7 linked regions of the Homo sapiens genome follow. The protein of the gene in region 5 interacts with the protein of the main gene of each other region in a biochemical or structural test. Each region holds a gene or a part of one and is shown on either strand. Other genes may lie near its edges. The genes, in order: CGN, GAGE12J, SEMA4F, CD226, IL16, CACNA1D and SMCHD1.

Region 1 (4,096 bases), on a different chromosome or scaffold from region 5:
TTGCTGTTCCTCCCCAGGGAACAGGCCGGTTTGATGGCCCTAATCCTTATATACAGCTTGCTCTGGAATGCAGAGACTTTGCATCCCAGCTGAGGAGCTGGTAAGTGGACTTTACTCTGTAGGACCCACACCTAGCTTTTGAAGGCTTGGGGAGGGGCGGAAACCAGCTCCCGAGAATACACCGGAATCTGTGCTGCATCGAAGATTCCTCTTCTACTCCAATAGATACAGGGTAAATATTTGTTGTAACTAAATGAGAACAAAATCCGGAGCCCAGCAACGTAAACGAAGTCAATCTCTTTTTTACATATCTCAACGGTTAACAGCTAGGATGCCAGCTTTAATGTTGTTTTAACTGCAGCTGGTATGAGCGGTCCTGCAGTTTGCAGAGCCCCTAGTTTTTACTCTTTTCTAGGAACTGGGATCAGCATCCCTACTTTTTGAGAGGCTAACTCTGAGGTAAATTTACAACTGAGTCCCTTTCAGTTTAGAACGAAGGTCATTCCTATTTTGGTAAATTTGCGTCCCCGGTTTCCATTCATTCAGTCAACAAATATTTATTAAGCATGTAGTATGTACCAGTCCCTGTTGTAGGCGTTTGGGGTGAAGCAAGGCACAGAACAAGAGATCCTTGCTCTGGTGAAGCTTATCGTAGGACGGGAGGCAAAATGATGAAAATGATTTTTAAAATTATGTTATTAACTAGAAGGTGATAAATATTACATAGAAAAAGATGTCAGGCTGCAAAATGATTGCGGAGGCCACAAGATAAAAGAGAATCCAAGATCAGGGTTCTGGTTCGGGTCAGGGAAAAGGGAGACGAGCTGAGGTGCAGGAGGCTCTGACGTCGGGGGACAACGGAGATATTTTCTGCAGAAAGTGACGAAAGAGCATTCTGGTTCCTGCAGAGGTAGGTGAAGGACAGAAAGGGCCCTGGCCGGCGATTCCCTTGGAGTAAACGGGAGGCAGGAGGCTGTTTTCTAGCAGAGCCCAGAAGATGCTCTGGCCGACGGCTCCCGGGATCTTGGCCGGCGGTCACTCGCGACCATCCGCGACGCCCCCAAAATGGCCTCCGCGCCCCTCGCCGCCCCGCCCCGACGCTCCGCAGCCCGTGGGTCCACGTGACCTGGCCCGCCCTTCGCGGCTGGAGACCCCGGGTCCCGGTCCCCGCACCGGAGGCCCCGCCCCCTACGGGAAGCGGACCAACCGGAGCGGGGAAAGGCGGGGCGGGCACTGACGGCCCGCGGGGGTGGAGCTCCGCAGCGGAGTAACAGGTTGGTGGGAGGGAGAGAAAGGAGGGAGCTCCGAGGACGAGGGGGAGGGCCGGAGCTGCGCGTGCTGCTTTGCCCGAGCCCGAGCCCGAGCCCGAGCCCGAGCCCGAGCCCGAGCCCGAACGCAAGCCTGGGAGCGCGGAGCCCGGCTAGGGTGAGTGGACCCGGTGCGGGCCAGGGCACCCGAGAGGAAAGCGAGCCTTCAGGGGTACCTTTGAGGGGCAGGCATCGAGGCGGTGTGAGATGCCCCTCTCCAGGGCACCGGTGCCGAGTGGGAGACGGGAGGAGGGGAGATTGGGGCGGGGTGGGGTACTGATTAAGAGCCGACCCCTACCCTGAGGTGCCAGATGCAGGTGGCTAGGAAGGTGCCAGGCGAGGGGCACCTGGGGCGAAGGCTGTTCCCAGCGCATGAAAGCGTTTCAGCGCCAGATGTCTCTGGAGGTCAGACGCCAGCCCTAGGGGCAGAATTTCTCTTGGAGACAGCGGTGGCGCGGGGAAGGAGTTAGTTCCAGCTGAGTCGGGAACTGCTGCTGCCTGAGGTGCAGACTCGCCAGGGGAGGGCATCTGCAGGTGCTGCTCGCCTGAGGGTCTTTCCTGCGTCCTGCGGTCTCAGCTGGCCGTTGTCAGCACCCTGGTGGCTTTGAGATGACTCTGAGGTGTGGGATTTTTTCCCCAGCCCTTCACCTCCGGCCGAAGGCAGTTGCGAATCAGAGACACTGAGGGGCAGATGAGAGGGCACCCTCATCTCTTCACCAGGTGTACAACCATTAGGCTTTCACTTTGTGTCCTTTGCTTTCGTGCCAGGGAGAATCGTTCCTTCTTCCTCTTGAGAGAGAGAGAGAGTACTCCCCAAGAGAGGGATATGAGGAAGCAAAGAGCCCTGCCTGGTCCTGCAAAATATTGATAAATATTAATACTTATTTCTCAGGAGGCCCCTTTCTGGGGGCGGATGTCAAACCCTTTCTCCAAGTACCCACATATTTTTTCTGTGGTTCTAGATGGGGACCATTGGATGAGGTTTGGGAGCCCAACCAATTTCCTTGATGTCTGGAGGAATCCCCATTACTCCCTGAACGCCCTCCAGGCATCCCTGACTCCTGAACTGCGGTGGCTGTCAGAATGGCAGCAGGCACTATTGGGGCAGGAAATAGGCAGGACTCATCAGGAGACCACGAGACTAGGGAAATTACAACTCCAAATCCCCAGGACAGATGAAAGGTGCACCTTGGGGCCCAGACAAGACTGGAGGCAAATTTCTTTGCCTTAGGCAGGTAAAGGAACTAGAGTCAACCTTAGCTTGGCCCCTTTGAAGCCCTGCCTGAGGAAGGTTGTTGTAATTGGGAAATAATTAGCAACCGCTATGTTTGTAGATGGGCTGCCTACACATGCCTATGCATCTCTTCTTTCATCCTGGATGTTTGGGAGTCTGGGGGCTGGCTCTGGGGGACTGCTAATCCAGAGATTTGCCCGACTCTAAGAGGATTCTGGCTTCCTAGAACCCTTCCTGTGTTTCCCAGGCTGGCCTGCATGCCATTCCCCTTGTGGGAGGTGATGGGGGTGTAGGGCTCTTCTCTTTGTGCCAGGGAGGGGCGGACTGAGGACCAGGGAGGTGGCCAAAGCAAGTGTGGGATCAGGAATGCAACTTTGGGAACCTCAAAGGGAGGGGTGGAGGGAGACAAAGTCTCCCTGTCACATACTGGCCTGTCACCAGGTTCCTGTTCATCTGCTCCTCCTGCCTGTTCCCTCCCTGCCCTCTGTCCTCTCCTTCAGAGCTTTGGCTTTGCCATCAAGGCTGGAGAGCCCCTGCCTGTGGTCTTGCCCCTCTGCCTCCTCCGTGGTGTGGAATTTCTCTGGTCTGCTTTACAAGCTGCCAGTGTAGTTTCCCCGGCCCTCCCCTTCCCCTTGCCTCTCAAACCAGTCCAGCCAGTTTGCAGGGGCCCAGTTCCTCATTGTGTTTTTTTCCCTACTGGCCAAGCAGCTGTAGCCTGGCTCTCAGGTTTCTGCTCTTTCAGCGGACCTGGGCAGGAGTCCACTTGGGGGATTCTTTTTGGATCCACGGGGAACCTTCTTATCTCTAACTATGAGAAAAAGGGTGCCAAATCATCAAGGTCACTGAGCTGTCCTTTTCTATTTCGACCATTTGCTTTCCTTGTTTCCTCTGAGGGGATTCTAATCTCTATACCTCAAGTTCTCCCGTTTTCTAAATCTGCCAATTATTTAGCATCAAGCATATTGCCTGGCCCTATGTGAATCAGTCCTTCCTCCACACACCCGAAACCACCCCACCCCCACTTCCTGCCAGAAGTCCAGATACCCTGTCACTCCTAGTTGGAAACCAGATGCATATGGCTGGGCCAGAGGTGATGGAATTGGGGCAGGGCAGGCTAATGAGTAACTCAGGGAGAAGTGGCTGTCTGGTACAGGTGTAGAGTGTTCTCCCACTCCTTGCAGGCAGGAAAGGCAGAAGCAGACAGATGCACCTGAATCAACTTGTGGTCTGGTCTCTTCCTGGAGTACAGTTGGTGAGGAGAGCCCTGGACATGTGATAGGGGAGAGAAAAGTAGGGTCAGGCATTGGTGAGGGCGCAGGCCCTGGACTCCATGTTGCCTGGCCCTTGATCACTGTTTACCTGCCTGTCTCTGGGGCTTACGCAAGGCCTCAGAGCTGCCCTGCTGCCTTGGTCCCGCCCCACTGTCCTCTGTAACCAAAGGCGGGTAGGTTTCGGGTTTTCCATGTTGAATCATTTAGAGCCCTGCTTTCTGACCCACCCCAAAGATCCCTTCAGCCCTCCTGGCCCCTGATCCACATGTCCTTGGACTGAAGGT
Region 2 (4,136 bases), on a different chromosome or scaffold from region 5:
CTATTCACTCTCCTTTTTTTGTAGATGGACTTTATCAGAGTGAGTCATTCCATTCTGTTCCAAATTTGCTGAGAGTATTCATTTGAATATATGTTGATTTTCATCAAACAGTGCATCTATTTCGATTACCACAGCGTTTTTTCCCATTCATGTGTTAATATAGTGAATTCGATTGATAAATTTGTACGTTTTTAGGTTCGATTATTAAAACTTGAGACAGCGTCTCACTCTGTCACCGAGGCTGGAGTGCAGTGGTGTTATCAGAGCTCGCTGCAGCCTTGACCTCCTGGGCTCAGGCGCTCCTCCCACCTCAGCCTCCTGAGTAGCTGTGAGTATAGGTACATGCCACCATGCCCAGCTAATTTTTCGATGGTTTTTTGTTTGTTTTTTGTAGTGATGAGATTTTCTGATGTTGCTTAGGCTGGTCTCGAAGTCCTGAGCTCAGGTGATCTGGCCAGCTCAGCCTCCCAAAATACTAGGATTACAGGCGTGAGCCTTGGCCTGGTCTGGTTTTTCTTATATAGGGGTCTTATCTATATAAAGACTAAAGTTAATCTGTGCCTTTGTGCGGGTGGGCTAAGAGCATGATGACTTTTATCATTCTATTGATTTAAAGAAAACTATCCTTGACTTACCAGTGTGTAAGGCCATGAAAGCATAATTCTGTTGAAAGCATATATTGTTAATGGGTGTTGGGAACCGTGCACTTTCCGCTGCTGTGGGAGCATGTCCTTGGAGGTACCTTTCATCTGTTTTCTCAACTCCAAACATCTTAGGACCATGGGTTGTGACTGGTAGGACTATGTATCTTGCTGCTTTCAAGACGGAGTATATTTTCACGTGGTTTCACTCTGGCTGTCCTGTTTCCCTAATACTGTCACTTCACCCTCTGTGATTCTGATGCTACAAATGATAGATATCGTTTTAGCATTTTCTTACGGGTCCTAGCGATTCTATTCATTTTTCTTTCAGTCTCTTTCTCTGACTTGTTCACAATGAACAATTTCCTTTTGGGATAGGTTGCTATTTCTGTTTTCGCAGGTGGTTTACCTGTCTTCCCAGCCAGTCACAGTGGTCCTTGTCCCCATGGTGGGTCCGGGGCAAGAGAGGGCCCTGGGTTGGGGGTGGGGTTCAGTTGAAGATGGGGTGAGTTTTGAGGGGAGCACTACTTGAGTCCCAGAGGCATAGGAAACAGCAGAGGGAGGTGGGATTCCCTTATCCTCAATGAGGATGGGCATGGAGGGTTTGGGGCGTGGCGCTGGGAACGGCAGCCCTCCCCAGCCCACAGCCGCGCATGCTCCCTGGGCTCCCGCCTCAGTGCGCATGTTCACTGGGCGTCTTCTGCCCGGCCCCTTCGCCCACGTGAAGAACGCCAGGGAGCTGTGAGGCAGTGCTGTGTGGTTCCTGCCGTCCGGACTCTTTTTCCTCTACTGAGATTCATCTGGTAGGTCTGCAGGCCAGTCATCCCGGGGGCTGAAGTGTGAGTGAGGGTGGAGAGGGCCTTGGGTGGGTCAGGCGGGTCCCGCTTCCTGGTCTGTGGCCTCCGAGGGAGAAGGGCCACGAGGTCGTCCTCCTTCCCTTCACAGGCTGCGAGGCCACCGGCGGCTTCGTGGTCGTGAAGGGGCCTGGACGGGGAGGAAGGTGGGCCGTGGAGGGGAGGCGGTCAGGGGCTCAGGTGAAGATGGGGTGAGTGCTGTTGGGGGGATGGAAGTCCCGAGGTGCCGGGAACCCCCGACGACACAGGGCAGATTCCCTGAATGGGGCCTCCGGCGGGGGCGAGGCGGGCGGTGAAGAAGGGGCCTGGCACCTGGGAAGGCTGCGGCCTGGTGAGCGCCCCCCCCAGCGGTGTGGAGTGCGGAGCGCCTGAGTGAGAAGCACTGCAAGGTCTCACCTCCGCCATGGAAGGTCCGAAAACAGTGGGAAGGAGTGGGCGAGGCAGTGCGGTCCAACCAAACTTGTTGTGAGGGGGGGTGAATGGCTCTAGGAAGTGGGAGTGTGCCCAAAGCAGCAATCACGAGAATTGTGATTCACTAGGGTTTTCGTGGGGAGTGCACTTGTGAAACTAAACCTCATCAGAAATGACCTCTGTCTGCGGGGCGCAGTGGCGCTCGCCTACGTAGTCCCAGTTACTCGGGACACTGAGGTGGGAGGATCCCTTGAGCGGGAGGTCGAGGCTGCAGTGAGCTGTGATCACGCCGCTGCACTCCAGCCTGAGCAACACAGCGAGACCGCGTGTCCAAAAGAAATTTAGAAAAAAATGTCCTCTGCCTTTTGCCACATGCCTTAAGATGATTGCTCTGCCAGCCTGGCCAGCAGAAGTGGCTTTGTAGGCACTCAGACAGCGTACACACGTATGCTTAACTCTGGGACTTATCTTGAGAGTATTTTCAAAAGTAAAACGGCAAGTTTACATTTATCCATGGAAGTGATCGAATATAGCAGCCCTGTGGAGCGCACGTTCCCAATCACGGTTGTCTGTTTTCAGTGTGAAATATGAGTTGGCGAGGAAGATCGACCTATTATTGGCCTAGACCAAGACCCTATGTACAGCCTCCTGAAATGATTGGGCCTATGCGGGTGAGTGCTTGAACGTTAATTCGATGTTTTCTATTAGTAGAAATTAATTTTTGTGATAGCGTTGTTGCATTAGTGTGGAAATGCTGATAAAGGTCTTTCCTGCTCATAAAAAATGATGATGGCATCTCATGAAGGAAACATTGATTCTGGAGGATTTTTTTTTTCCTCTCGTGTTCTTCAGCTTTTGCCCATGACTTCTTTCTCCGGCTTTGTTTGTTAATGACAGATTGTACACATGTATTCCAACACAGAGTACAATAGCCTCCAAAGTCCTCGTGCGTCACTTTTCTCACAGTAACCTCCCTGTGGGTGGAGTAACCTTATTGGGCATAGAGCATAGAGTTGGAGAAATGTCTTTAGGCTTAGTTAGGACCAGAAATAGCTATGTATTCTGTGTATATATGTAAAATTTTGTATCAATAACGAAACTTATTTTTTATTTGCACACCCACACGTATTCCCCAGCCCGAGCAGTTCAGTGATGAAGTGGAACCAGCAACACCTGAAGAAGGGGAACCAGCAACTCAACGTCAGGATCCTGCAGCTGCTCAGGAGGGAGAGGATGAGGGAGCATCTGCAGGTCAAGGTGAGGGAAAGGGAAGAAGAACGTCTGCTGGTGTGTGCGTGTGTGTGTGTTCGTGTGTGTGTGTGCATGTGTGTGTGTGTGTGTGTGTGTGTGTGTTAGGCATTGTCACATAGGAGGAAGAGGAGGAAAGAAAACAATGGAAAGAATGCCTGAAATTGACTGGAAAAGCGAGGAGGCTATGTAGTTTGCAGCTTAGCTTAGGCAAATCCCTCACTATGATAAAAGTTCTCGACTTTATGAATGAGAGAATGGAGGTGCCAGGATTGTGTGTTATCCAAGAACCCTTGACTGGTGAATACAACATTTGTATTGTGTTCCAAGGTTTGTGTCTTCCTATCATGTGTGTTGCTGTAAAGAAGGAAGTGATTTTGCTGAAAATGCTTAAAACTCAAAAGGCTTTACTGTAAGGTAGCTTAGTACTGACCCAAGAATAGACCCAGTTCAGAGGAGCAGGAGCAGCTCCAAAAACCGAGTCGCTGAATGTTGGCCCCCGTTTCCTTTGATTGATATTTTTATATGGTACGTTTGATAAAAGCTGGATAAATGAGGATACTGCCATACAGGTAGCTGGTTTAGTGATTTTTCTCAGCGGCTTTTAGGAGGTGATTAAATCCTTTTATGGTTAGAAAAGCAAAAACGGAATTATCCTGAGATTAACGTGAGATGGAAATAATTTCTCCGAGATAAAATGTTTTGAAAGGAAGCGTTTATGTAATGGAGGTCATGGATTATTCCAGGGATGCACTGTTAAAAGTTCCTAGAATCTGACTGACAACAATGCCCATTAATTGCTGTCCACCCACTCCCTTATTCTCAGTGCGGGACAGTATATTTTCTGTGATTCACAAACAATGTTATATTTGGTGCTTTGTTCTTCACGGGGTTCATTTATGGAATATTACCTTTAGGACCTTCGGACCTAAATATAACTTTATTTGAACAAAGTGAAGTTTCTCTTTACCCCAATAGGTAA
Region 3 (3,047 bases), on a different chromosome or scaffold from region 5:
TACAATTTCAGGGAGTCCATGGACCCCAGGTAGGGGGGACTCCTGCTTTAGGGCAAGGGTGTCACCCTGAGTAGTCACTGATTGCAAACGTATCTTTATACTGCTCGTATATCCTATGACTGTTCCCCTTCTGTTGTTCCCTAATCATTAGAATGTTGTTGATTTTTAATGGGAGCCAAGGAAATGGGGTACAGCCTACACTCCAGCCAGAGAAAGCAGCTGTGACATGGCAGTGGTGGCAGCCAGGGGGTAAAAACAAAGAAAAGGATGGGGTCATGTGTACTGCTGCCCTTCCCACCCGGAAGGTCACTTTAGGAGCTTTTCTCTACTCAAATTTAGAGTAAGGTTGTGGGGCAATGGGGAGAGGGGCAGTGTTTCAGTTCCTTTTAGAAAGGAACGCCATTCCCTCTATGGCTACAGGGTCTAAAGTTCTGCAGGCAACGCCCCCATTCCAATTGTCTCCCTCCCCATCCCTCATAAATATTCCTAAGCATCGGCCCAGTCATTCATGCACATGTGGCCAGGTCTCTTATGAACACTATGTATTTACACGTACTCTTTCATGGAAGGAAAACTGAGATGGGGAAGATCTCAGGGCAGAGACTCCATATTGCAACATGGGGATCATGCACTCCCCACAGATTCAGATAAACTTGAAGAATAAGCAGAACCACCCCAAGGACTCAGGGCACATTTGCCCCCAACCACCTCCAGGGCTCTTCCTTCCGGCCAGGCTCCAACCAGAAAGCAAAGTCATAGCTATGCCCTGTGCCCCATCCCCAAAACTAATGGGCCCAAGATAGGGGGCCAGGGATGAAGGTTTACAGGAGTTCAGATGTTAGGGGGAAGCCCTGATTTGCTGCAGAAAGCAGTTCTGATTTCTCATGGGAATCAGGAATCAGGCAAAGGTCTGGCCCCAAGCCCATCCAGGCTCAGAGAGAACAGATACTAAAATCCAAGTAATCACTCATACTCAAAGAGAACTCAGAGGCTGGGATGGTCTTCCAGGCCCAGTGACCCCCAGCATCTCAGTGGTCACTCCGTTCCAGTGATCACTTATACACTAGTGGTCATTTGCCCAGCTCTAGATGGATGTTTCATCACATGTGGCTAGAGGAGCCCCAGTTAGCCGAATGTGGGCTGGGCTTGGGCAAGGATCAAGCAGGAAGGGTGGTGAGAATCCACCAAAGCCACTGCCCCTCTTGGCCAGGGCCAGCGGCAACCGCTCATCTTCAGGAGAGGGGGAGGGAGGGTCTTGGCTGTAGCTTGTGGTCCCAGAAGGTGGAGCCCCCAGGTCCAGGCCCACCTTGTCTCTAGCCAGAAGTTCCCTCTGTCGCCGTCGCTGCTGACGCCGACCAATCAGAATGAGAGTCAGGGATGCTGCGAGAATCCCCAAGAAGAAGCCAGCCAGTCCCGCCCCCACTGTGTGGGCCCGGCTCGGAGCATCTCGCTGGCTGCCCCATACCAAGCTGTAAGCTGCTACCACATGGGCTGCCCCACCCTCCTGACATTCACAGGCATAAGCGCCCATGGCCCCTGGGGTCACCACCACCTCCAGTCCATCCCGCCGGGGGGTGAGTGCAGTCACTCCACTGGGCTGGTGCCACACACAGGATGCCCATGCTGAGCTTGGAGAACATGGCAAGACCACATGCGCAGCTGTAGCCACGGGAACTTCAAACACTACTGGACGTTCTGTGAGAAACAGCAAAGGCACAAAAGGAGGTGAGGCTAAAGGCTGGAGGTGTGATGAAGAAAAGTGTGGGGTGATGTCGGACATGAAAAGGGGCTATGGAGACTAAGCTAAAAAGGGGATTCCTAAAGAGGCTAAGGCCCGAGGTTCCTGGCTGCCACATCTTCCAGGATCCAAGGTTTAGAATCGTTCCAAAATGAACAACTCTCTAGCCCCTTTCCATCCACTCCACCCACATTTCCCTAATCCATACAGACCATACAGACCTCCAGGCTCTTTAGGACACAAAGAGGAGACATCTGCTGACTCTATGTCTTGGACCAACCTATAAAGAAGAGAATGCTTGGTAAATCCAGTGTGAACATTCCCTTCAACCCCCCTCAGTATTACTGAAGACTCCCTCATTCAATATATCTCCCATCATCCCAGAAATCACTCCAGAAATTATCAGTCAAGTTTCTCCTCATCACCAAATTTTTCCCCAATACCTCTTAATATTACTCATGACATTTCATTTGCCATATCAAGTTCCATGCATCTTTCTAGCAGACCAGTGATAGCTAAATTTGCACTAGGTCTGTTGTAAAGATGTTTAGTGGGGGTGCTTTAAAAGAAACAGAATCTTCTAAGAAATGAACCTGGTTCTCCACAACCACAAGATTTCTCTAGGAAAAAAAAGGATAAAAACTATAGGGATTTTTTTTTCTCTTATTTAAGAGAAAGAGCAAACTCCTTTTCTGTAGAAGCTAATCAAAATTCCTTTAGGGTCAGTGAGGTGACTTCTTGTTTCCTAAAAGCTACTTGTCTCTACAAAGGAACTCTTCAATAGTGGTTGATATATACTGGCCTATGTGTTATTTCAAAGGATCTGGGGTCATCCAGCCGGAAGCTCCAGGCACAGTCCTGTCACTTCCAGGATTTGGGTGGACTATATCTGATGGAGGATAGCAAGATGGACTGCTCACTGCTGAACTCTCTGGCACCACTCGCAGAGGCTGGGAAGTCAATGAGACCCCTACACTAGGGTTGTCAGTGAAAAGGTCTGAACACAAAAAGCCTCAATCAAACACAGACTCATCTGAGTATGAACTCCTTCAATATGAATTGAGGTCCCTGAAATGAGCTCCCAAGACTGGTATGAATAAATAGATGGAAATTTCTTGGGTAAAACCAAGGTTGATTAGTCTAGCTGAGAGTGGGGAACACAGGAAGACCACATGCACAGCTGTTGCCACAGGAACTTCACAGTCTATGTTCTTCTCCCTTGGATGAACTGAGGTATGGGCAATGTACACAAGAACAACCCAGAACACTGGCATAAACACACAGCCCACACTCCCCACCACCCCCCTCC
Region 4 (3,500 bases), on a different chromosome or scaffold from region 5:
TCTGGAGCCCTTAATATTAAAGGAATCTCTTTAGTGCCACTAACCAGCAGATATATACAAGAATGAAAGAAAACTTTGGCTGCTATGTCAGCTGCTGGGAACCTGGACAGAGAACACTTGTCCCTGAAGGGTGTAGAGATAAGAGCCTTCTAAGAATGAGCATGGATGGCATATAAGGAGCCTCATCCCACCTGGGAGAGAATGAGACTCTTAAAGGGAAACAGTGAGGAACATCTCTGTGCCCAGTTTGAGATAAATGGACTGGAATATGGGAGATCACAGAGTCAGCAAACATACAATACAGCCAACACAAAGTACCTGCATGTGTGGAGCAAGAAAATCTAACCCTCTACTATAAATATGAGTTCTATGTGTCTTCTGCTCTCACATCAATAATTCACCTGTTCACTTTCCTCTCCCTCCCAACTCTCCCCCTCTTTTCTCTATGCCCTCTACATTCTTTAACATGAACACCTTCTTTAACACACTACAATGTGACCATCCTCCAAGCCACAAGCTATGACCTTAGACTTCTGCCCCCATCCATTGGTACTTTCTTAGTTAACCCCATCCATCCACATGTGCTGGATGATCATTCAGATGACTTCAAATTGGATATTTTCAATCCTGGTTTGTTGTTCCATAATTTCAATTGTCAGCTGGTCAAAGGCTACTTTACAATTTAATACACCTGAAACAGACTTAATTCCACTCTTGCTAGCCAAGTTGGTCTCTTAATTTCACATCTTTTTCACTAAAATCATCATTTTTTAGTCCTTGGATCATAAAAATTTGAAACCATTGCTGAAACTTACCTCTACCTGGCCCCCAGGCCATATCAGAATGAAGATTTCATCCTTACCTTAGAGCTTTCAACTGCTCAAAAATTGCAATCACATCTCTTTTCACCATTAGAAATCAGTAGATTTGGCCAGGCAAGGTGGCCTATGCCTGTAATTCCAGCACTTTGGGAGGCCAAGGTGGGGTGGATCACCTGAGGTCAGGAGTTTGAGATCAGCCTGGCCAACATGGCAAAACCCCCATCTCTACAAAAATACAAAAATTAGCTGGGTGTGATGATGCAGGCCTGTAATCCCAGCTACTCAGGAGGCTGAGGCAGGAGAACCACTTGAACCCAGGAGGCAGAGGTTGCAATGAGCTGAGATCATGCCACTGCACTCCAGCCTGGGCAACAGAGTGAGACTCTGTCTCAAAAAAGGAAAAGAAAAAGAAATCAGTAGATTTGAAAGAAATCTTCTAAAACATTTTGAGACAAATGCAAAATAAAACACCTGTATAAGGAAAACACCCTGACTATGAGCCTTAAAGACCCTTTCAGCCCTTCCTGATTCTATTCTATCCCCCACCTACCATGTTTCTGAACTTTGCTTTTCTTTATAGTTTTACCACGTTTGTATCTATAAATAACGTATTGTTTAATTATGCATATTTCTAAAACCTTTAAAGAAAAGGAACCCTAGTTTACCTATTTTTTTTGGTAACTTGCTCTTTTCTTTCAACACAAAGTTCATGAGCTTCATCCATGTCGGTGAGCAAGTGATAATTCACTCATTTTAGTGATGTAGAGTATCCTAATGTGTGAATAGACCTCAGTGTGCTTTTCGGTTCTACTGTTGATGGGTATTTGGGTTGTTACCAATTTTTTGCTATTGCAATCACTGTTGCTATAAATATTGTCAGGAATTTTCCCTATAATGAGAGAACTCTTGGATACCAAACAGAGTAGAATTATTGGATCATAGGATTTGGGGTTTTTAACTAGCTAATGCCATATCATTTTCCAAAACAGGTATGATGGTTAATTTTACGTGTCAATTTGAAGGGTGTTTTGGGATGAGATTAACATTTAAATTGGTGAATTTTGAATAAGCAGTTTGCCTCCATAATGTAGGTGAGCCTAATTCAACAAAAAGACCAGCCTCCCCAAGCAAGAGGGATTCTGCAGCAGATGACCTGGGCTTCACCTGTACCATCGGCTCTCCTGGGTCTGCAGCCTGCAAGCCCACACTGCAAATTTGGGCTTATCAGTCTCCATGATCATATGATATAATTTGGCCGTGTGCCCACCCAAATCTCATCTTGAGTTGTAGTTCCCATAACCCTCACGTGTCGTGGGAGAGACCAGGTGGAGATAACTGAATCATGGGGGTGGTTTCCCCCATCCTGTTCTCATGATAGTGAGTTAGTTCTCATGAGATCTGATGGTTTTATAAGGGGCTTCCCCTGCTCTGGGCACTCACTCTTCTTCTCCCTGCTACCATGTGAAGGACATATTTGCTTCCCCTTCCACCATGATTGTAAGTTTCCTGAGGCCTCCCCACCCATACTGAACTGAGAATCAATTAAACCTCTTTCCTTTATAAATTACCCTGTCTCAGGTATGTCTTTATTAGCAGCATGAAAACTGAGTAATACAGTAAATGAGTACAGCAGAGAGTGGAGGGTTGCTGTAAAGATATCCACAAGTGTGAAAGCAACTTTGGAACTGGGTAACAGGTAGAGGTTGGAACAGTTTTGAGGGCTCAGAAGAAGACAGGAAAATGTGGGAAATTTGGGAACTTCCTAGAAATTTGTTGAATGACATTGACCAAAATGCTGACAGTGATATAAACAATGAAGTCCAGGCTGAGGTGGTCTCAGATGGAGATGAGGAACTTTTTGGGAAATGGAGTAAAGGTCACTCTTGCTATGCAAAGAGTTTGGTGGCATTTTGCCCCTGCCCCAGAGATCTGTGGAACTTTGAACTTGAGAGAGATAATTTAGGGTATCTGGCAGAAGAAACTTCTAAGGGGCAAAGCATTCAAGAGGAAGCAGAGCATAAAAAATTTGGAAAATTTGCAGCCTGATGATGCGACAGAAAAGAAAAACATTTTCTGGGAAGAAATTCCAGCCAGCTGCAGAAATTTGCATAAGTAATGAGGAGCCAAATGTAAATCACCAAGACAATGGGGAAAATGTCTCCAAGGCATGTCAGAGACCTTCATGGCAGCCCCTTCCATCATAAGCCTAGGAGGGAAAAGTGATTTCCTGGGCCAAGCCTAAGACCCCCTGCTCTATGCAGCCTCGGGACTGCATATGGTGCCCTATGTCCCAGCCACGGCTAAAAGGGGCCAACATACAGCTCAGGCTGTTGCTTCAGAGGGTGCAAGCCCCAAGCCTTGACAGCTTACACGTGGTGTTGGGCCTGCGGGTGCACAGAAGTCAAGAACTGTGGTTTGAGAACCTCTGCCTAGACTTCAGAAAATGTACAGAAACACCTGGGTGTCCATTCAGAAGTTGCTGCAAGGGCAGAGCCCTCATGGAAGACCTCTGCTAGGGCACTGCAGCAGGGAAATGTGGGGTTGGAGCCCCCACACAGAATCCCCACTGGGGCACTGTCTAGTAGAGCTGTGAGAAGAGGGCCACCATCCTTCAGACCCCACAATCTGAATCTGATCCACAGACGGCTTGCACCATGCAACTGGAGAAGCCACAGACAC
Region 5 (3,500 bases):
TCTCAGCTGGCTGCTCCTGATTTGCCCTTCTGGACTCATAGGTCTCAGGCCCAAGGGAAAATGAAATATGGGCTTAAAAGAGGGGGTGGGAGAACAGATCCATCTGATAACTCCATCATGTGTTGCTAACCAGCCACATCCTGCCAGCGCTCTGCAAAACTGCACTTCCTTTTTAGTAACCTGGCTTCCTCCTCCCTCCTTCACTTTCACCCCTCCTACTCAACATCCCGTCTCCACCGCTACCCCTCCTGAAGCTTGCCAACCCTCACTGTAGATTGTTTTAGGGGATTTCCAGAGGCCCCCTCCCACCTGCCCACGGTGTGCTTAAGGGAAGGGCCAGGGCCCCTGCAGGGCCATTCCGTGATGGGGGAGACAGCTTCTGGGTAAGGATGGGAAACTCAGCATTGCATAGTGGGTAACTGTGACCCACTAGCAATGTGAACTTGAGCGAGTTTCTCAGTTCCCTCTTTGCACAACTGGGACTCTCACCATCAGGTGGTTGTAAGATTTAATTGACACAATGTACATGAAAGTACTCAGTGTGGTTAGCCTGCGCATAAAATGGTTCTAGACACAGCAGCTGTCTGTCAGTCAGTCTGCCTTTTATGCAAGGGGTGGAAAGGAGGGCTTTAAGGGGCCTGATGGGGAAAGATCATGGCAATGAATGCTAATATGCCTGAGATGCTGTCAGGTACTTGCCTTAAGTGGTTACCTTTAATCCTCACAATAGCCCTTGGAAGGAGCCACTCCTCCCGGGTTTAAGCAATTCCCTGCCTCAGCCTCCTGCGTAGCTGGGATTACAGGCACCTGCCACCATACCCGGCTAATTTTTGTATTGTTAGTAGAGACAGGGTTTCACCATCTTGGCCAGGCTGGTCTTGAACTCCTGAGCTCATGATCCACCCGGCTCAGCCTCCCAAAGTGCTGGGATTACAGGCATGAGCCACCGTGCCAGGCCCCTTTTTAGTTATTTAAGCCACTATTCTCCCTACAAGCAGGACACTCAAAGATCCACATGCAAAGACTGAGACCCTGCAGGGGCCCTGGTATTTTTCCTTCATGGTGAGTGAAAAATGACACAAGAAAGGAACCTTAAATTCCAGTGTGTTATGGGTGGGAACCCAGATGCCAGCAAGCAGGACTGGGACTTCAATTATCTGTCAACCTTCAAACCCATCTTTTCATGGTCAGTCCTCAGCTGAGTCCTAGGCAACAGTTTCTCTCTGGTGGAGCAGGAGAAACTTTCATTCTGGCCCTGCTAACACTAACTTGCTAATTTGCCCATGCTCAAGATTTGAGTCTGGTCCTGGAAACACTCAACCTGTGGACCCATCCTCTTACCTGGCCACAGGTGGGTGGGGTGTGCCCAGAAGAGCATGAGGAGTTCTCTCTCTCTTCCAGACTCTTCTGAGGGTCACTGTCACTTTTAAAGTATTTTCTGGGTGGAGGCTTGGGCTTGGAGGACATAGGCTTTCTCACCAAAATCTCAAAGGATTTCTTCAGTCTCAGCGGCGGGTGGCTGTCCCGGCTCTCTGGGAGGGGTGGGCTCTCCTGGGGCAGCCTGGAGGATGCTATAGAAAGCACCACTGGCTCCCGTGCCAGAGGCAAGCTGGGGCTGTGTGTGCTGATGTCCACGTCAGAGGACGGCTTCTCAGCACTGCCACTCCCAGGACTTCCCCCTGGGGACCCAGACATGTAGCTGCTGTCACTGCTGGAGCGGATCATGACCTTCTGAGCCCTGCGATGCGGGGGTGCTGAGTTCTTCTCTCGTTCCTTCTCCAAGGTGGGCCGCCCGTGCCAACTGCTTTCCAGCCTTTTGACACCTGTGTGGGAAGCACAAGAGAATCTTCACAGCTGAGCTTCAGAAAACAGAAATACCCCCTGGCCTCACCTGTGACTGCCACGGGCAGCACACTGCACATCGGCCATCTGCTTCTTATCTGAAGTCACTGTGGATCTGGAGTATGGCAGTCTTGGTGTTGGTCCCTGGCGAGCTGTATGACTTTGGGTTGGGAAAATCATTCAAGCTTTCTGAGCCTATGACTGATGTATATGGAGATATGCCACCCAGATCACCCATCGAGGAAGGGCTTGGTGTCCCAGCTGTGGGGAGTGCTGCTGGCAGACTACTTTCAGCTGTGGGTCCCTCCAGGGGCTGCCACAGCTGCAGACAGCTGCCTTGTCCAATGGGGCAGCCCATCTCCAGGGACTGCTGGAGATAGGGTTACAGAGGCCCAGCTATGTTGGCCAACATAGGACAACTCTAATGGGGACTTTGGCTGCAGAGCTCCAGGGCTTGGCTGAAGCTGTTGGGTGTGCACCTCAGCTCCGTCCTCCCTCTGTCTACCCTGCCTGCTCCCCTCCCTGCCACAGGTAGTGAACCCCAGGACACTGCCTGCAGACCAAACTCCATCTCAGAGTCAGCTTCCTGGGGGACCCAACTCCATTTCTGCATCTGTAAAATGAGGATGATAATTTTAAAGTCACTGGGGTTATTTTGAGGCTCAATAACAAAGACAGAGAAACTACCTGTCAAGGCACTTTGAATCTTACACGAAGAAGTCACTATTTCTTTCCAGTTGAGGGTGAGGTGAGGGCAGAAAGCCGCTATTTCTTAGCCACTGCACCTTCCTCCCTCCCTCCCCATTAGCCCTTCCTGGTTCTCAGTACCCCCTACCCTAGTTTCCAGCACTAGGGCTACCCACACATCCTTGAGAGGCCCTTCTCTCTAGTGGTAAGCTGTCAAGGGTGCCCCTTTCCTAAAATCACAGCTTGAAGGGGTGGGAGAGGATTGAAATCTAGTCTCTTGCTCAAATTCCAGCTCATTCTGAGAGACCAAGAAAGCCAGAGGAGCCCCATGAGAGAGAACCAAGGCCAGCCAAGCTCCTAACTCACTTTCTCTTTAAATAAAAAGTTTTCTTTTTTTTTTTCCTGATCATGAAATAATGCATCCTCCTTAGAGAAAACTCAGCCACAAGGAGGAAGGAATGAAAGTAAAAATTCACTTCACCTGTGTTCCTATCAGCCAGAAATAACTACTGTCAAAATTTTGGTGAGTTTCTCTGTCATGCTTTCCCGAGCATATATGCATGTTGGGTGGGTAGAAATAATAAACCAGAGCTGAAATAAATTGTGTTCTGTTCTTTTCTCTGAACATTTCCCCAGATCATTTAATTTCTTGTCAATATCAGTGCCAATGGTTGCATGTTGTTCTTTCATAAGGATGTTCCATGGTAGACGTGATTAATGCCCAATGGCTAGGCATGGGAGTCAAGCCAGCTGGATCTCCATTCCAGAGCCTCTGTGCTCTAGTGGTATGACTTTGAGTAAGAGAGTCTCTGAGGGCCTCACTTTTTCTTATAAAATTTGCATAAAAATTATGTGTGAATGCATGAATTAGCATAGTCTCTGATTTATTATAAGAATTATAAGAATTAAATAAATGTCAGAATTATATTCCCAAATGTTAGTTTTTCTAATATTCTATTATTATAAACTAG
Region 6 (3,500 bases), on a different chromosome or scaffold from region 5:
GTGGGAACTGAGTTGCACCGTTTCCATGACTCCAGCCTCCACTAGCCCTGCAAGTCCATAAACGAAAGCTGCAGAGAAACTTGAGAGTGTTTATATTTTTAAAAAAATAAAGAACAAAAACTATCCCTGGGAAAACTTCTGCCCCCCAAGGTAGTCTCCAAATCCCAAAACTAGCTGAGTTACATACTATCTAGAACAAAGACACATTGGATCAATGGGGATGGCCACGTTTCTTCCCCAAAAAAAGTCATAATTTTACTAGGTAACTGGTAACAGGCAGAAACATCATACATAAAGCTGGCCCTGGATCTCACTCTATCGCTCAACTGCATCTTTCCCATGGAGCTATCAGGCAAAGAAAACCAGCAGCTTCCAGATACATGCAGCCTTGCAACTCATTTCAGCGTCTGCCCTTTGATTTTACCATTCACATTAAATGAAAGGTATTTACTACAGATGAAAAATAAGTTTCGTTCAGCTGCCTCTAAACCAATCCCAAAAATAGAGCAATCACTCTAGTACAAATTGGGTCAAATGTATTTAAAAAAAAAAAAACAAAAAACCAGCTCCCTCATGGGAGGACCAACATGGCATGGGACCTTGCTTAGAGTCAGAAGGAAATCCACAAAGATCTTCCCTTCCCACAGTGGGAAAGGAAGTATTTAAAGAGTCAAGCAGAGTAAAAATTCATCTGGCCATGTGACCACCCAAGTGAAAGCAAGACACAAAGTTGAATGCCATGAGTTTCAGAATACTATATGAAGAGGTCAAAGGAATATACGTTGGCTTTTAGAAAGGCCCACCAAATTAACACACTGCCAAATCCCCCCCCACAAAAAAAAAAAAAAGTTCAAAGCTTAAGAATAGTCAAGAAAAGATTCACTGGAGAAGGGGTGCAAAAGGGAAAGATTAATCCATTTCCTGTATTTTATTTCCTGACTTCTTAGCTGAGAAATCCAAATGGTCTGACAGTGCCTATATCAGTGCCCTGAATTTCCCTGGGAAAAATTCAGAATATTAATTGGCTTACACATGCAGCTACATTAATTATTCCACTGATCTGAATTAATCTGCCTTTCTGAAAGGTATTTATTTTCTAAGTTTGTTTAATCATGTTCTCTTGAGCTACGAAAAGTAACAATCTGGGTCACCATCCACGTCGTTAAATTTGGTAACAAGGCTAACACCATCTGTGGCCTAGACTACGATGATCTATCTCCATTGATGGGAGGCTTTCCACCACTTCTGCTTTTTCTTTAAAACAATCATCTAATGTCACATGTCTACAAAGAAATCAAAAGCTACATAAAATGTCCAAAGTTACACAAATGATCTCTGGCATTGTCCAAATATATACTACCAGTGTTTATGTGGTTATCCGACTCCCATTTATAGTTGTATTTTCAGCATCAATTCCCAAAATTTTTAGAAAATTCTCTAGATATCAAACTACTAAAGCCCACATACAAATAGACATCACATTACATCTGAAATGTGCCACAACATTTTAAATGTAACATGAAATCCTGTACATAAATCGTTAAGGCTTATTCACAAGAGCATAATTTCACTATCTTCAGAAGCCAGCAGAGCTCTCCCACACAAGGGAGAGCCTAGTGTGTTTGCCTTTACAACGCTCGCTCAGTTAGGAACATCCAGCCCTGCTAAAATAGAGCTTCAACATGAGAAGCCAAAAACAAACGGAACCAGCTAAGAGAAGAGAAGAAAAACAATAGAGTTTCCTGTTATCCAGAATGGGCTCCCCTTCATCTCCCATTCTGCATGGCTTCTGATTGCAAAGAACCAATCCTTGCAAGAAGGATGCTGCAGCACCAGAAAAATCCTGAAATGGCTTCTGAATCATCAAAGAAAGATTGCAGAATGTCAGAGGTAAAAACGATACTAGCAATCTTCTTACCCAATCCTCCTAATTGCCAGGTGGCTGCACAGCAATGCAGAAAGGTATGAGAAATGACCCCAAATACAGCTAGTTGACAGGTGAGTGGGACAAGATCCTAGTCCCAGTCTAGTACTCTTTAGTGCTTTTTTTTTAAAAAAAAAACTATATCAACCTTTCCCAAAGGAAGTTCCATGGACCACTGGTTCCATGATGTTAAAGTCTTTTGCCAAAAAAAAAAAAAATGTTTAAAGAATTCATGACTGATTACTTTTAGGGACTAGCTGAGTTAAATAAAAGGAAACCTGTTTTTTAACTGCAGAACTTCCCAAAGCTTTTACTAAGCTAATGTGCACTATAAATCTTTAAGAAGGCAGCAAAGTATATGGAAGCATCCTGATTTATTTAACCATACAATCATTTTCTCTTGGAGCATTTCATAGGACGTGGAGTAGAAACTTTAATATTATATCATGTATTCAATAATATCATGTATTATTCTCCAAATTATGCTCTATGTAGATTTATTAGTTTTGTTATATTCTACTTCTCTAAAAATAGTTCATGTACAAAGTCTACGATAATTCTCTACTTACCAGAACAACTGACCAAAGTACCCACCACTCCCAAGAACACTAGATTAAAAACAAAAAAAAAAAAAGAAAAGAAAAAAGCTAATATTATCAGGAAAAGAATGGTAGCAAAAACTTATGTGGAGATAACAGTTATTTTAAAATCTGCTCCAAATCTCTTCCATAAAAATTCCATATCTATTTATAAAAGATTCATGACTTTAAATACTTTCAGTCAGTATAAATTTGAGAATACAGGTTAAAACAAACAAACAAACAAAAAACCACTGTTGCAAAGCTCCAAGAAACACGACATGCATAGCTATAAACTTCAACCACCCAGAAGGCCAGCTGCCAGTTTAAGTATAGAAGCAAATGATAACCATATACCAGGACCAGCAGGAACTCTAAGGACACTTACCAAGTTATGATTTGTTGAATTAGAATCATCTTCAGGGAATGGGATGTAAATAGCTAAGGCCACACAATTGGCAAAAATAGCCAATAATATAAATATGTCAAATGGTCTGAAAAAATGTGTTAAGGTATATATGTGTTATGGAAACATAAACCATGTCCCTCATCACACTCCCGATCACACCACTTTCAAAGCACTTTTAAAAGGAAAATGACATACACAAATCCTATTTCGGCTGACTGCTGTGACTGCTAGGTTTTCGGCAGAAGTAATCATCGGTGGTCATCTCACAGTGGAGCCTCCTACCAAATGACCTCTCCGTGTCCTTTTCTTCTGTTGCAAGGATCATGTTACACTCATTCTTCGGCTGCACACTGCATATTAAAACCTAAAAGTACATCCAATTAGGGCACTGTGTGAACTAGGTTTCTGCTTCTTACAGGTTTAAAAGTGACAAGAGCCTTACTAAGTTCCCGGCTGTGGTAGACACAGAGAAATCATCATGGGATAAATGTCTTCCGCAGATCCTTGCCTCCATGTGTTAGAGCCATTTTCTCAGGGGCTATTCTTGGCAGGGTCAGCCTAAATCGCCTGTCTGGACTGGGCCAGGCCA
Region 7 (3,500 bases), on a different chromosome or scaffold from region 5:
AATTAATAATCTGAGATTACATGGTCAACAAGCAGTGAAACTGGGATTGGAATTTAGGTCAATTTGATTCCAAAGCTTATGTATACATATACATATATATGTGTGTGTGTATATATATGTATATGTATATATACATATATATACACACATACACACATATATACACATATATACGTGTATACGCATATATACATATATACACATATATACACATATATATACACACACATATATATATTTTTTACACTACTCCACACTATTTATTAGAACCATCACTTTTGTCCTTAGGGGAAGAGACAAAATAATATACTAAAGTTTTTGTTAAAATGTAAATTAAACCAATAAATGTTTGTAGTGTCAGGCAGTATTATGGGTGATCCTAAACTGTTACTTATTTATTTATTTTTTTTGAGACGGAGTCTCGCTCTGTTGCCCGGGCTGGAGTGCAGTGGTGCCATCTTGGCTTACTGCAACCTCTGCCACCCAGGTTCAAGTGATTCTCCTGCCTCGGCCTCTTGAGTAGCTGGGATTACAGGTGCCTGCCACCACGCCTGGCTAATTTTAATACTTTTAGTAGAGATGGGGTTTTGCCATGTTGGCCAGGCTGATCTTGAACTCCTGACCTCAGGTGGTCCACCTGCCTTGGCCTCCCAAAGTGCTGGGAATACAGGCATGAGCCACCACGCCCAGCTCTAAATTGTTATTTGAATAAAGTTCACCTCATGGAAAAGGAGAGGGAAGAAATGGAAAGGACAAATCTGCAAGAAGCCCTTAGACCTCTGATAAGCAGCTGTTGACTCACCTGAGCCCTTGTGGCCTTGCAGAATCAACGATTAGAAGATGACTCATTTGGTTAGTTCTAAAATATGCCCAGATGTTAAGTCCCATGTGTGCATATCCCCCCACCACCAATTTGAAGAAATTGTCTACATTTTCCTTTGTGTGGCTCCAATGTTTTTTGTTGTGCGGCTATTCTAGGTGTTTTGTATTTTAATATAAGATGTGCTCATCAATTTCTACAATAAACTTGAGATTTTGAAAAAAAAAAAAAAAAAAAGCAGAAAACTATGGCTTAGCAAGTGCCATAGTAAGGTAACGAAATATAATGGAGCCACATTAAAAGCTGACTAGTTTGCAGAGTTTCAGAGCAGTGCTAATTAAGCTGTGTGCTTTCTGACTAATCCATGGATGAAAATTACCTGTTGTTCAGAGATAGTGAAAAAATAATTTTAAAAATAAAATTAACTGATCATTTTGGTAGGTAATCATTTTATGCACTGCAAGTCAGTTAGTCCTTAAATATTTAAGAGAAGTTGGGGACGGCATAGTGGCTTACACCTGTAATCCCAACACTTCGGGAGGCCAAGGCGGGCGGATCACCTGAGGTCAGGAGTTAGAGATCAGCTTGGCCAACATGGTGAAACCCCGTCTCTACTAAAAATACAAATATTAGCTGGATCTGGTGGCGGGTGCCTGTAATCCCAGCTACTCGAGAGGCTGAGGCAGGGAGAATTACTTGAACCCGGGAGTCGGAAGTTGCAGCGAGCTGAGAACGCACCGCTGCACTCTAGCCTGGGTGGCAGAGCGAGACTCTTGTCTCAAAAAACAAACAAACAATAATAAAATAAAATACTTAGAAAAATTGTGAATTCAAGAAATAATTTTTATAGATGAAGCAGGGAAAACAAAAAGATAGTTTATGTGTCTTAATTAAATAATAATAAATTTATAGATTAAAAATCCATGGTTTTTTTTTTTTTTTTTTTGATGGGAGTTTCACTCTTGTCACCCAGGCTGGAGTGCAGTGGCGCAATCTTGGCTCACTGCAACCTCCGCCTCCCAAGTTCCAGCGATTCTCCTGCTTCAGCCTTCCAAATAGCTGGGATTACAGGCACCAGCCGTCATGCCCGGCTAATTTTTGTATTTTTAGTAGAGATGGGATTTTACCATGTTGGCCAGGGTGGTCTGGAACTCCTGACCTCAGGTGATCGATCTACCCACCTCGGCCTCCAAAAGTGCTGGGATTACAGGCATGCGCCACCATGCCCCCTGGAAAATCCATGGATATTTAATATGGATGAAAAATCCATGGATATTTCATATGGATTTTTGATGTGGATTAAAAACCATGGATTTTTAATATGGATTAATTTTAAAGTTTATTGCAGCACTATTTACAATAGTAAAGACGTGGGACCAACACAAATGCCTATTGATGATCAACTGGATAAAGATAATGTGGCACATATACACCATGGAATACTATGCAGCCATAAAAAAGAATGAGATCATGTCCTTTGCAGGGACGTGGATGAAGCTGGAAGCCATCATTCTCAGCAAACTAACACAGGAACAGAAAACCAAACACTGCATGTTCTCACTCATAAGTGGGAGTTGAACAATGAGAACACATGAACATAGGGCGGGGAACATCACACACAGGGACCTGTTGTAGGGTAAGAGGCAAGGAGAGGGAGAGAATTAGGACAAATACCTAATGCATGTGGGGCTTAAATCCTAGATGACAGGTTGATAGGTGTGGCAAACCACCATGGCACATGTATATCTATGTAACAAACCTGCATGTTCTGCACATGTATCCAGGAACTTAAAAAAAAAAAAAGATAGTTTGTGTGTCTTAATTGAATAATAGTAGATTTATAGATTAAAAATCTATGGGTTTTTAATATGGATTAGAAATCTGTGGGTTTTTAATATGGATTAGAAATCTGTGGGTTTTTAATATGGATTAGAAATCTGTGGGTTTTTAATATGGATTAAAAAACATCTGTGGGTTTTTAATATGGATTAAACATCTGTGGGTTTTTAATATGGATTAAACATCTGGGTTTTTAATATGGATTAAACATCTGTGGGTTTTTAATATGGGTTAAAAATCAAAAGAAAATGAACTATTTGCTCCAGTGCAGGAAAATACAGGCAATACTGGATACAATTAGATGGTCAGGAGCGATAACCCGGTTGCCATTGTTTGAAGAAGAGAATAAGGTGCTAGCATTCCTATCCGTAGATAATTTGACAGCTAGGAAATAGGGGGAGTCTTCTATGTAGTTAGTGAAGGCTAAATGAACTATTATATGCAGTTATCGTAGAAGAGTACTCAAAAAAATCTGTAAAAAATAAAGAAAGGCCGGGCGCGGTGGCTCACGCCTGTAATCCCAGCACTTTGGGAGGCCGAGGCGGGTGGATCATGAGGTCAGGAGATCGAGACCATCCTGGCTAACAAGGTGAAACCCCCGTCTCTACTAAAAAAATACAAAAAATTAGCCGGGCGCGGTGGCAGGCGCCTGTAGTCCCAGCTACTCGGGAGGCTGAGGCAGGAGAATGGCGTGAACCCGGGAAGCGGAGCTTGCAGTGAGCCGAGATTGCGCCACTGCAGTCCGCAGTCCGGCCTGGGCGACAGAGCGAGACTCCGTCTCAAAAAAAAAAAAATAAAATAAATAAATAAATAAATAAAGAAAGAAAGAAAGAAAGAAAGA

What was found.
Region 1: the proteins of IL16 (region 5) and CGN interact in a test that uses a peptide from one of them, tested with the Homo sapiens proteins (one large-scale study listed by IntAct).
Region 2: the proteins of IL16 (region 5) and GAGE12J interact in a test that uses a peptide from one of them, tested with the Homo sapiens proteins (one large-scale study listed by IntAct).
Region 3: the proteins of IL16 (region 5) and SEMA4F interact in a test that uses a peptide from one of them, tested with the Homo sapiens proteins (one large-scale study listed by IntAct).
Region 4: the proteins of IL16 (region 5) and CD226 interact in a test that uses a peptide from one of them, tested with the Homo sapiens proteins (one large-scale study listed by IntAct).
Region 6: the proteins of IL16 (region 5) and CACNA1D interact in a test that uses a peptide from one of them, tested with the Homo sapiens proteins (one large-scale study listed by IntAct).
Region 7: the proteins of IL16 (region 5) and SMCHD1 interact in a test that uses a peptide from one of them, tested with the Homo sapiens proteins (one large-scale study listed by IntAct).

The regions. Positions count from the first base shown.
Region 1 is NC_000001.11:151,510,091-151,514,186, forward strand, and holds the start of CGN (cingulin), read left to right. Parts: upstream 1-1,296; 5' UTR 1,297-1,425; intron 1,426-4,096. UniProt on the Homo sapiens protein: Probably plays a role in the formation and regulation of the tight junction (TJ) paracellular permeability barrier.
Region 2 is NC_000023.11:49,320,701-49,324,836, forward strand, and holds the start of GAGE12J (G antigen 12J), read left to right. Parts: upstream 1-1,336; 5' UTR 1,337-1,444; intron 1,445-2,485; 5' UTR 2,486-2,493; coding exon 2,494-2,577; intron 2,578-3,042; coding exon 3,043-3,163; intron 3,164-4,136.
Region 3 is NC_000002.12:74,678,247-74,681,293, reverse strand, and holds part of SEMA4F (semaphorin-4F isoform 1 precursor), read right to left. Parts: intron 2,019-3,047; coding exon 1,960-2,018; intron 1,696-1,959; coding exon 1,085-1,695; 3' UTR 1-1,084. UniProt on the Homo sapiens protein: Probable cell surface receptor that regulates oligodendroglial precursor cell migration. Might also regulate differentiation of oligodendroglial precursor cells. Has growth cone collapse activity against retinal ganglion-cell axons.
Region 4 is NC_000018.10:69,937,874-69,941,373, forward strand, and holds part of CD226 (CD226 antigen isoform a precursor), read right to left. Parts: intron 1-3,500.
Region 5 is NC_000015.10:81,290,879-81,294,378, reverse strand, and holds part of IL16 (pro-interleukin-16), read right to left. Parts: intron 1,824-3,500; coding exon 1,342-1,823; intron 1-1,341. UniProt on the Homo sapiens protein: Interleukin-16 stimulates a migratory response in CD4+ lymphocytes, monocytes, and eosinophils. Primes CD4+ T-cells for IL-2 and IL-15 responsiveness. Also induces T-lymphocyte expression of interleukin 2 receptor. Ligand for CD4.
Region 6 is NC_000003.12:53,501,111-53,504,610, reverse strand, and holds part of CACNA1D (voltage-dependent L-type calcium channel subunit alpha-1D), read right to left. Parts: exon of another isoform or gene 3,164-3,500; coding exon of another isoform or gene 3,107-3,163; intron 2,997-3,106; coding exon 2,891-2,996; intron 1-2,890. UniProt on the Homo sapiens protein: Voltage-sensitive calcium channels (VSCC) mediate the entry of calcium ions into excitable cells and are also involved in a variety of calcium-dependent processes, including muscle contraction, hormone or neurotransmitter release, gene expression, cell motility, cell division and cell death.
Region 7 is NC_000018.10:2,658,726-2,662,225, forward strand, and holds part of SMCHD1 (structural maintenance of chromosomes flexible hinge domain-containing protein 1), read left to right. Parts: intron 1-3,500. UniProt on the Homo sapiens protein: Non-canonical member of the structural maintenance of chromosomes (SMC) protein family that plays a key role in epigenetic silencing by regulating chromatin architecture.